Homo sapiens: one gene and its partners. The protein of the gene in region 1 purifies or fractionates together with the protein of each later gene. This does not show direct contact. Each region holds a gene or a part of one and is shown in the gene's direction. Other genes may lie near its edges.

What was found.
Region 2: the proteins of MEAK7 (region 1) and GMFB fractionate together in Homo sapiens (co-fractionation; one large-scale study listed by BioGRID). This does not show direct contact.
Region 3: the proteins of MEAK7 (region 1) and CMTR1 fractionate together in Homo sapiens (co-fractionation; one large-scale study listed by BioGRID). This does not show direct contact.

What each region holds. Positions count from the first base shown.
Region 1 is NC_000016.10:84,498,160-84,501,659, reverse strand, and holds part of MEAK7 (MTOR-associated protein MEAK7), read left to right. Parts: intron 1-3,500. UniProt on the Homo sapiens protein: Activates an alternative mTOR signaling through RPS6KB2 activation and EIF4EBP1 repression to regulate cell proliferation and migration. Recruits MTOR at the lysosome, essential for MTOR signaling at the lysosome.
Region 2 is NC_000014.9:54,482,408-54,486,134, reverse strand, and holds part of GMFB (glia maturation factor beta), read left to right. Parts: intron 1-2,367; coding exon 2,368-2,464; intron 2,465-3,727. UniProt on the Homo sapiens protein: This protein causes differentiation of brain cells, stimulation of neural regeneration, and inhibition of proliferation of tumor cells.
Region 3 is NC_000006.12:37,460,630-37,464,356, forward strand, and holds part of CMTR1 (cap-specific mRNA (nucleoside-2'-O-)-methyltransferase 1), read left to right. Parts: intron 1-919; coding exon 920-1,016; intron 1,017-1,340; coding exon 1,341-1,473; intron 1,474-2,199; coding exon 2,200-2,379; intron 2,380-3,727. UniProt on the Homo sapiens protein: S-adenosyl-L-methionine-dependent methyltransferase that mediates mRNA cap1 2'-O-ribose methylation to the 5'-cap structure of mRNAs.

The sequences.
Region 1 (3,500 bases):
CTCTCTCCTGCTTGAAAAAGTGGCGTTGCCAGCCTGGCTCTGCGTCCAAGCCTTTCCTGTCATCTCCTGGGCCTGCCCTGGTCTGCGCCGCTTCTGTGCATTTCTGGGTTCCTGTCCTGCCTGTTGGCACTTGCCCAGCCCTGCACCTTTCTCCCGGCTGTCTGGGGTTGGTGAGGGCTGGCCAGGCTGCACCCTGCTGCTGTTCTCCGACCACAGTGGGGGAGCCTGTTTCTGGCAGAAAGTGGGAGTTGGGGTGGGATGGAAGTGAGGGGCTGGGTGGAGTCAGGCCTGGGCCCCCTTCTGCTGCAGCCCTCTGCTGCCCTCCCCCACGTGCCCTGAGTTCCACCCTTGCCTCGCTGATCCCAACGCTCTTGCTTATGCCCCGTGCGTGCTGTTCCCACTTCCTGGTGAATCACCTGTGAGTCTCTGAAGACTCAGCTGGAATGTGACCTTTGGGACCTTTTCCACTCTTCACTCTTCTTGTTACACCCCCAGGCCACACCCATCCCCATGCCCTTGTCTCTGTTTCCCCTCTTTTTTTTTTTTTTTTTTTTCTTTTTTTTTTTGAGACGAGTCTAACTCTGTTGCCCAGGCTGGAGTGTAGTGGCGTGGTCTCGGCTCACTGCGACTTCCGCTGTCCGTGTTCAACCAATTCTTCTGCCTCAGCCTCCCAAGTAGCTGGGATTACAGGTGCACAGCACCATGCCTGGCTAATTTTTTTGTATTTTTAGTAGAGATGGGGTTTCATGTCGTTGGCCAACCTAGTTTCGAACTCCTGACCTCAGGAGATGGTGTGGCCCACCTTGCAGGCTCTTCGAGTTGATGCAGAGGGTGGGTCTGCTTTGTTTTGGCTGCTTGGGCTGTGTCCCTGCAGCACCCAGACTCAGCCGGTGCAGCCCCTCTGTTTCAGAGCTGGGGACAGCCGCCTGCCGCTGGACATTGAGTCCAGGCTGGAGGTTTTCCTTCTGGGCTCTTCTGCTGCTGCGAAACGTGAGGAGTGGAAGCGGTGAGATCAGATGGGGCGTGGGTGAGCACCCAAACGGGGTCGGGTAAGCCCTCGTTTCCAGCCTGTCTGTGTAAAGTGCACCCCCATCCCCTTCCAAGGAGCCCCCCAGTGGAGACTTCCTGTGCAGAGGGGCACATTAGCAGTGAGGCCTGTTAAAGGCCCATCCGCTGCGAAGATGGGTGTCATATAAAAGGCGGAGAAATAACTCGCTTTAGTGGGGGTGTGGATAGATGGAAGCTCATGCTTTACTGATGGGATTATAGAGTGGAGAGCACTTGGCGGCCCCTCAGAATGTTAAACAGAATTACCATGTGACCCAGCAAGTCCACTCCTAGGTGTCGACACTGGAAATTGGAACAGGGGGACTCAGGTACTCAGATGTTCATTGCAGCACTATTCATGATAGCCGGAAGGTGGAAACAGCCCCAGTGTCCTTCAGCTAATGATGGATAAGCAAAAGGTGGTCCATCCATACAACAAAATACTAATCAGCCATAAAAAGGAGTGGAATGCTGACCCGCGCTACAACATAGGTGGGCCTCAAAAACACGATGCTAAATGAAAAGAGACAATCACAAAAGGCCACACATCATATAATTCCATTTATTATTTTTTTAGAGACGGGGTCTTGCCCTTTTACCCAGGCTGGAGTGCAGTGGCACGATCATAGCTCACTGCAGCCTTGACGTCCTGTGCTCACGCGATCCTCCCGCCTCAGCCTTTGGAGCAGCTAGGACTGTAAGCACATACCACCGTGCCTGGCGAATTTTTACGTTTTTAGTAGAGATGAGGTCTTGCTACGTTGCTGTGGCTGGTCTCAAACTCCTGGGCTCGAGTGATTCTCCTGCCTTGGCCTCCCAAAGTGCTCGGATGACAGGTGTGAGCCACCACGCCTGGCCATATAATTGCATTTATATGAAATGCCCAGAATACAGAAATGCATCAGGACAGAAAGTAGACGGGTGATGGCCAGGGCATGTGGGAGGGAGGAATGAGAGGAGATTGCTCGTGTACAGGGTTTTCTCCGAGGGTGATGAACATGTTTTGGATCTGTGAGGGTTGCACCGTATTGTGAAGGTCCTAAATGCCACTGTACACTTTAAAATGGTTAATTTTATGTGAATCTCATCGCAATGAAGAGAAAGATCCTGATTACCCTGTTACCCCTTGAGGGTTTGAGTTGTCATGGCTTGGTGCGGACCATGACTCATGCCCCACCCTAGTAGCATGGCCTTTCCCCCTTGGCTAAATACCTTGGGGGAAAGTTTACTGCTGCAGTGACTTTGTTTATCAAGGTGCCTGTGTGGGAGAAGGTCGTTTTCTCTCCAGCAGTCTCATTGACACTGGGTTTCCGGAAAAAGTCCAGGGCCAGGAATTAACAGTCACAGCACCTTACCTCTTGAGAGATTTTTTGTTTGTTTTCATTTCCAACCATGCTTTTTTGTTTGAATCCCCCGATTGCTTGACACTTGTCTTTTCCTATAATGAGGTTTGTGACAGTGAACAAGGCCCCAGGTCACCTGCTCTTGGTGCCAGTCTCTGTTAACGCTACCCCAGCGCCTCAAACAGATGAGGCTCACGGGCCGGGATCATACAGGCACGGTCAGTGCCAGGCAGGTCTTGGCCCTTTGCTTTGGTTGACTTGGTTGATAATCACGGCAATCTTCTGAGGCTGGGCTGTGACTCCTCTTGCTTTACAAATGGGGAAATTGAGGCAGAGAGCGTTTTAGTAGCTTGCCCAAGACTACACAGCTAGGAGGAGGCAGAGCCAGGATCACAAAGGAAAAACTTCCCAACTAGTGTGTAGCAGTATTCTCAAGGTGAGTTTATTCAAATACAGGTGATTGTTCAGCCTTTGATTTATATTTTCTAACTCTGGTTTTAAAGAATGAATATTTAGATTGATTAAAATACAGATTTTTTTGTCCTGCCTTTGATTATATTAGCTTGGGCACTATGTTCTCAAACCCAGACTTTGTGACAATTATGGGTGTGTTTCAGTAGGTCATGGGCGTCACGATGGGCTTTTCCAGCTTTGTTTGTATCAGCTATTGATTTCTGTCACATCAAAACAATATTAGCTAGTCACGGTGGTTCACATCTCTAATCCCAACACTTTGGGAGGCTGAGGCAGGAGAATCACTTAAGGCCAGAAGCTGGAGACCAGCCTGGGCAACATAGCAAGACCCCATCTCTACAGAAGACAAAAAAAAAAAAATTAGCCAGGCATCCTGGTGTGGTCCTGTAGTCCCAGCTACTCAGGAGGCTGAGTGGGGAGGATTGCCCGAGCCCAGGAGGTTGAGGCTGCAGGGAGCTGTGATGGCACCACTGCACTCCAGCCTGGTCAGCAGAGTGAGATCCCACCTCAGCAACACAAAACAAAAACAAAACCCAAAACCCAGTATTATGTAGCTCTGATGTGTTTTAGCTACATTTTGTGGCTATATCAGTATATATTAACTTGACCATATAATTCTCAACATTTATTTTCTGT
Region 2 (3,727 bases), on another chromosome or scaffold:
GGGATTACAGACGCTTGCCACCACGCCCAGCTAATTTTTGTATTTTTAGTAGAGACGGGGTTTCACCATGTTAGCCAGGCTGGTCTCGAACTCCTGACCTCATGATCCGCCCGCCTCGGCCTCCCAAAGTGCTGGGATTACAGGCGTGAGCCACTGTGCCCGGCCCGGGGTCTGGTTTTATTCTGCATATAGCTATCTGGTTTTCCCAGCACCATTTATTGGAGAGAGTGTCCTTTCCCCAGTGTATGTTTTTGGCATCATTGTCCAAAATGAGTTGGCTATAAATGTGTAGATTTACTTCTGGGTTCTCTATTCTGTTTCATTGGCCTGTGTGTGTGGTTTTATGCCAGGATCATGCTGTTTTGGTAACTATTGTTTTGTAGTATATTTTGAAGTACTGCTTTGTTCTTTTTGCTGAGGGTTGCTTTGGCTATTCACAGTCTTTTGTGGCTCCTTACAAATTTTAGGATCTTTTCTCTCTTGCTTTTAAGAATGTCATTGGTATTTTGATGGGGATTGCATTGAATCTGTAGATCACTTTGGGTTAGTATGGACATTTTAACAATATTATGTCTTGTAATCCATGAGCTTGGAATCTTTCCATTTTTGTATGTTCTCTTCAATTTCTTTCATCTGTGTTTTATAATTTTCATTGTAGAGATCTGTCACTTCTTTGGTTAAATTTATTCCTAAATTTTTTATAGCTATTGTAAGTGAGATTGCTTTCTTGATTTCTTTTTCAGATTGTTTCCTGTTGTTGTATATAAATGCTACTGATTTTTGTATGTTGATTTTGTATCCTAAACTTTACTGAAATCATTTATCAGTTCTAATAGTTTTTTTTTTAATGGAGTCTTTAGCTTTTTCTAAATATAAGATCATGTTGTCATAAACAAGGATAATTTGACTTCTTTTTTTCTAACTTGGATGTCTTTTATTTCTTTCTCTTCCCTAACTGCTCTGGCTAGGACTCCCAGTACTATGTTGAATAAAAGTGGTACAATTGGGCATCCTTGTTTTACTCCAGAACTTAGAGTAAAGGCTTTCAGTTTTTCCCCATTTAGTATGCTGTCAGCTGTGGGTTTGTCATATATGGCCTTTATTGTTTTGAGGTGTGTTCTTTCTATACCCAATTTGTTGAGGGTTTTTATCATGAAAGGATGTTGAATTTTATCAAATGTTTTTTCAGCATCTCTTGAAATGATACGATTTTTGTTATTCTGTTAATGTAATGTATCACATTTATTGATTTGCCCATGTTGAACCATTCTTACATCCCTGGGATAATCCCACTTGATCACGGTGAATGATCTTTTTAATGTGTTGTTGCATCTGGTTTTCTAGTATTTTGTTAAGGATTTTTGCATCTATGTTCATCAAGCATATTGACCTATAGTTTTTTTTTGTTGTTGTATACTTGTCTGGTTGTGGTATCAGGGTAATGCTGTTCTTGTAGAATGAGCTTGGAGGTATGTTCTCCCCTTCAATTTTTTTGAATAGTTTGAGTAGAAGTGGTGTTTTAAATCTTTGGTAGAATTCAGCAGTGAAGCCCTCAGATCCTGAGTTTTTCTTTGATGGGAGACTTTATTACTGTTTCAGTCTCATTACTCATTATTGGTTTGTTCAGGTTTTCTATTTCTTCATGGTTGAGTCTTGGTAGATTGTGTGTGTCCAAGAATTTATCCATTGCTTCCAGGTTTTCCATTTTGTTATAGTGTTCATAATAGTCTCTAATGATTCTTTGTATTTCTGTGGTATCAATCGCAATGTTTCTTTTTGTCTCTGCTTTTATTTCTTTTGCACATTCTTAGTAGCTCCTTTTTATATCTCTATAATCATTTAATTATAATATAAAATATTATTGGTCTTTACTCTTATGGGGTTTTTAACACTTTTGTTGCTTATATTTTTTTTCCCCTGTAATTGTGAGGACAAAAAATAATTTATTAATTCTAAGTATAATCAGATTATTTTCTTGTTCTTCCTTCACTGTGTAAAAATAGTATGCTTGACTCCCTTTCTAACAGCAGACAGTGATTCTTGACTTTCCCCATATTCTTCCCTTCCTCTCCAGTTCTGATGACATTGCACATTATTATGTGTGTGGTTTTTGAGACATTCATTAGCCAAAGAGAAAGTTAAAATATACCTTACATATATGAGATGAACAAATTTGTAGGATTAAGCAATGTAGATCCAAAGGTTGGTTGATTTTAAAGTTCTTTTAAGTGTTCATGTATTTAATGCTTTCACTTAATTGACATTTGTGAATGTCAGTATGCATTATAAAGGTATTAGGTTTCATAACTTTAACATGTACATATATTGAAGTCATGGCATTTTATGTGTGTTTTTTTTCTTTTATAGAGTGAGTCTTTGGTTGTTTGTGATGTTGCCGAAGATTTAGTGGAAAAGCTGAGAAAGTTTCGTTTTCGCAAAGAAACGAACAACGCTGCTATTATAAGTAAGCTAAAAGTGATTGCCTCAAAGTTACATGGTCTTAATTTGTTTTTAATCTTGTAGCTACATTGAATGAACTGAACCGTTGGAAAGCAATGTTACTTCCTCTGTTTCATTTCCCCACCACCACCTTTAGATCACTTTAAAAAATAAGTAACAGCTAATTCTAATGTCACAGAACAGAGGTGGATTGTCCCACCTCCCCCATAGTCCTTTTATCAGCTGCCTGTACAGCTCTGGAGAAGGCGGTCGTCTTGGTCCTTGGGTAATGAGGATTCCCATCTGCAGTGACCCATCCAACCCATCCTTCTTGGGGGACTAAAAATAGCCTGGCCATTCATCCTCAAATAGAAACCTTTGCCTACACCTAAAATGACAAAGTTCAGCATTGTGTACATAGTGACTTTGGGCATTATTCCAGTTGTAGATTTGAACTCTGGTTTCAGGAAGAGTACTTTTAAGTGGCACTGGCACTATCTTCTGAAAATGGAAAAAGTGATTTGCATATTGCTCCTCCCACTGTGAGCTATATCTGACATTATGCAGATTTCCCTTGTATTCATAGGCAGTATTTAATATGTAGGTAGTGATTTAGAAAGATGAGGAAAGGATGAGGGGGTGAAAATGTAAAACTCTAGAGACCATGCTTAACAGAGATGCATCTGGCAGATGTGATTTAATCAGAGGTCATGACAACTTGTCATGAATTCTGATTTCATTATAAATAAATACTGCAATGTCGACATATGGTTCTTAAAAGTGAAAAAAAAATAAAAGTGAAAATGTGTGTTAGTGCCATTTACTGCAAAAGCTGAAACTATTTGAGATTACATTATATCTCACAAGATTTACTATCAAATTGGTGCAAAACCAAACATGGTCAACTTTGCCAGACTAACAGGAAAGGATAGAGGCATAGAGTATCTAAACTTATTTTGATTTAGCTTTGGATTACATTAGATATATTTGAATGTAGATATCACTTCTATTTGGTTATTCACTTTCTTAGAATAATGATACCGTGCCATGAAATCCTGACCTTGGAGAAGCCAGGAATTTTGAGGTTTCTCTATTTTGATCCCCGATCAGGCACTTTTTCCCTTGCAGTTCTGACCATGTTGCATATAGACCAATCAGTTACAGTTACCCTTTCAGGCTTTTTCTTATTATCTAGAAGTTGGATTTGAGTTACAAAGTTCTTTCATATACACAGGAAATGTAAGAAATTAACAGCAAGTTCTAAATAAGCAAATTAGGTACTGGGAAT
Region 3 (3,727 bases), on another chromosome or scaffold:
AGCTATCACTTCTGTAGAACTGAGTCAGGGACACCTGGGGCGTGTTTAATAGAGGGCAGCGTCCTTTTTTCTTTATTTTATTGTAAAAAACACAAATTTGATCATCTTAATCATTTTTAAGTGTTAACAGTAGTGTTAAGTCTATTCACACTGTTGTGCAACAGATTTTCAGAAGTTTTCATTTTGCAAAACAGAAACTGTACCCATTTAACAACACTGTGCCACCTGATGTCCCCTGGCCTCCTTTACTTTTATGTAAGCCTGACTCTGTCTCCTGCTGGGATCTCACAAGGAGGGAGACCACTCTAGAAATAGCATCACACATTCTTTCAGTAAATACCCTGGCCAGAGAGTCTGCCAGCTGGATACAAGAGGCACCGTGGTCTTAGGACAGGAAAGGGGGTATTGTAAGTAAAACCTGAGTCAACAGAGAGAGATTACTGTGACTAGGAAAGTTAACTTTTCTCCTTCACCAGAGTGGGAAGCCGAAGCAGAGTGTTCTCACTGTACTCACTCCCTGGTCTTGTTAGGACTCACCAGAGCATTCTGTTTCCTATGTTGTGGTTGACCTCTGACTAGCCAATATTTTGCCTCTGTTCTGCCTTACTCTTCTCTGGATTCCCATGAGTTAAAACACATTCTAAACCATCTCCTTGGAAAAGCAGGCTTGGTTCCATCCCCTGAGAATGACAGAGCAGGAAAGTGGAGCTGGTCCAGTAGTAGGCCTGGGTCCTGTGCTTACTCCATCTAACAAGCCCAGTGACCTTCTAAAATAACTCAACACTGAGCTGCTTCTTCATCAATCAGATGGTGATCAGTGAAAACACTTCAAGAACTCTCGATGAAGATGAGGTAGTGATGTTATTCTTAGTCCTTCTCTTTTCTCTTTCCCACCCCATTCCTTGTGCTCTCATTTCAGGGTTTCTCGGTGGAGGGGCAGGAGAACCTGCAGGAGATCCTCAGCAAGCAGCTGCTTCTGTGTCAGTTCCTCATGGCGCTGTCCATTGTCCGGACAGGTGACACTTCCTCAGCTGTCTCCTCACCCCAGGACCCACTTAGAGGCCCTATTGGACAAGAACATGTACAAGGGGTTGGTGGGGAAGTTAAAAAAATCTGCTTATATTAGAGGACAGGTAGCTAAATGAGTAATTTAGGGAAGAAAGGGCTGTGGAATCCTCAAAGTCCCCTCCAAAGATGGTTCTCCCCCTTAAATTGTCTCTGAGTTTTAACAGACCCAGGTGCTGGTTTCCTTGACTTTGTCATATTTACTCCCAAGACTACTTCACCCATCTCTTGGAATAGACCCATTGGCTGCTTTTGGTGTTTTCTCTCTAATCTAGGAGGCCACTTCATCTGTAAAACCTTTGACCTGTTCACACCGTTTAGTGTGGGGCTTGTCTACCTGCTGTACTGCTGCTTTGAACGAGTTTGTCTCTTCAAGCCTATTACCAGCCGTCCTGCCAACTCAGAGAGGTGAAGCCTTTCTCTCTATATTAGCCAGATTAATTGGCTAAATGTCAGAACAGCAAATCATGGTGCATCTCTCTGGCATGACCTCTTAAGCTACGTTTAAAACCTTGACTTTAAAGAAGTGATGAGAGCCAACAGGATTCAGGATTCCTGGATCTTTTGGTCTTGTGATATGCCAGTTCAGCCTCTGCCTCCTTCTTCCAAGCCTTATGCTCCATGCTTATGTGAGGGATTCTCAGCTTGGCCAAGGAGAAAGTGACCAATAGTAGGGACACTTCAGGGGTCTTGGGCTGGGAAGGGGCAAGGAGCCGCTATCCAGAGGCACTACTGGGGTCCCAGTGTGACACTGCCCACACACAAGGTGAGAGAAAATGCAACCAATCAGAATTGCCCGGTGGCTTTGTTACAAACACATATTTCTGGGCCTTCTCCTGGGAGAGTTTGATTCATTAGGTCTATAATTTAACAGACTCCCCAGGTGATTGTGACACAGCCCGTCTGTCACAGGGAAGTTAGGAACTACTGCGATAGAGAGTAGAAATAGAGCTCAACAGAGAAGGATTTGAGGGGAACTTTAGCACCACAAAGGGTCTGTGTTGTTCTTTGTGCGTAGGCCTAAGGTTGAACAGGGAAGCCATTAAGCTTTGTGATTCCACAAGGGGTTGGGGGAAAAGGAATGTATGGGGAGGAAGCCCTTGCTCGGTGGAGTGACAGAGTATCTTCTGCCAGGTATGTGGTGTGCAAGGGCCTGAAGGTGGGCATAGATGATGTTCGGGATTACCTCTTCGCAGTGAATATTAAACTCAATCAGCTGCGGAACACGGATTCCGACGTCAACTTGGTGGTCCCCCTGGAGGTGATCAAGGGAGACCATGAATTTACTGACTACATGATACGGTCCAATGAGAGGTAAGCCAACGGGCTGGTTTTTGCTGGTAACACTGAGGTCCTAAGGAAGACCAGAGAGTGAAAGACTGAATGGTTGGCTCTTGGTATCACTTTGTCAACCCTGACAAATTGGCAACTGGGTTTGGTCTGCTGGTTTCAGGGCTCCCTGGGACTTTGGTTAGTTACCCTCAGGGACCCCCATCCTGCTGCCATGCCCTATCCCAAGGGTGGCAGGTAGGTGCCTGGCTAGTATAGGCCTGCCTGCAGGAGCCTGTGTATAACAGTGAAAGCTGACAGAGCAGCCTGTGTCCCTGGAGGCAGGAGTAATTTCCCTTTAATTGCTGCTGTTTGTAAAAGGCCATCATGCTTGTTGCCTGGTGAAGTCCCTGTTTGGAGGCAGGAGATGGATGGAAAGCATGTGTACAACATGCTTTGGAAGTGCCCAAACTTTTGCCATTTCTTCATGAGTTCCCCAGCTGGTGATCCAAATGCTGTTTTCTGTATCTTCTTTGTTTTCCCCACTCCCTGTTAGTGGTAATAATTTAAAGTTGTGACATTTGGCTTAGTTTTCTCAGTGGGCAGGCCTTTGAAAAAAGTGTTTGGAGATAGGCTGGAGGGTTGTATAGTAGTAGTGATTCAATAGAAAATGCTCTCTTAGGGGGCTAAACAGGTGTTGGAAAGGCCTTAGTTAAGGGTCCAACCTTAAGTCCCCCAGAGAAGTTTGAAGATAGAGGTGGCCCTGGAGAATCATAGAAGGGGAGGAAGTCTTTATCCTATTCTCTCCTATTTTTCCAGTATTGCCTGGTGTTTTAACTTTCCACAGTACTGCCATATAAGCGCCCTCATTTTGATAGCAATGGTAGGCACCAAGGTGGAGCAGACAGTAAACTTCAGCATGTTATAGATGAGGAAGCAAACAGGCCCAGCGACCCGCCTGGCTAGGGCTTTGTAACACTTCTGGGTTATGGAACATGTCTTTTGGCTGAACAAGTGTGCATAGATGCATGGCAGAACTGGAATTCTTTTCAGGGGTTCCAATAACACAGAGTGTTTAAGCAACTCTATAACCAGCCACTTTTCTTTTTCTAAAAAAGTTGAGGTATAATTCTGTAAGTGAAATGCAAATCTTAAGTGTATAATCAGTTTACAAATGCATATATCCTTGTAGCCTACATCCCTATTAAGATAAAAAATGTGGCCGGGCGTAGTGGCTCACACCTGTAATCCCAGCACTTTGGGAGGCTGAGGCAGATGGATCACGAGATCCGGAGATCGAGACCATCCTGGCTAACACGGTGAAACCCCATCTCTACTAAAAATTCAAAAAAAATTAGCCAGGCGTGGTGGCGGGCGCCTGTAGTCCCAGCCA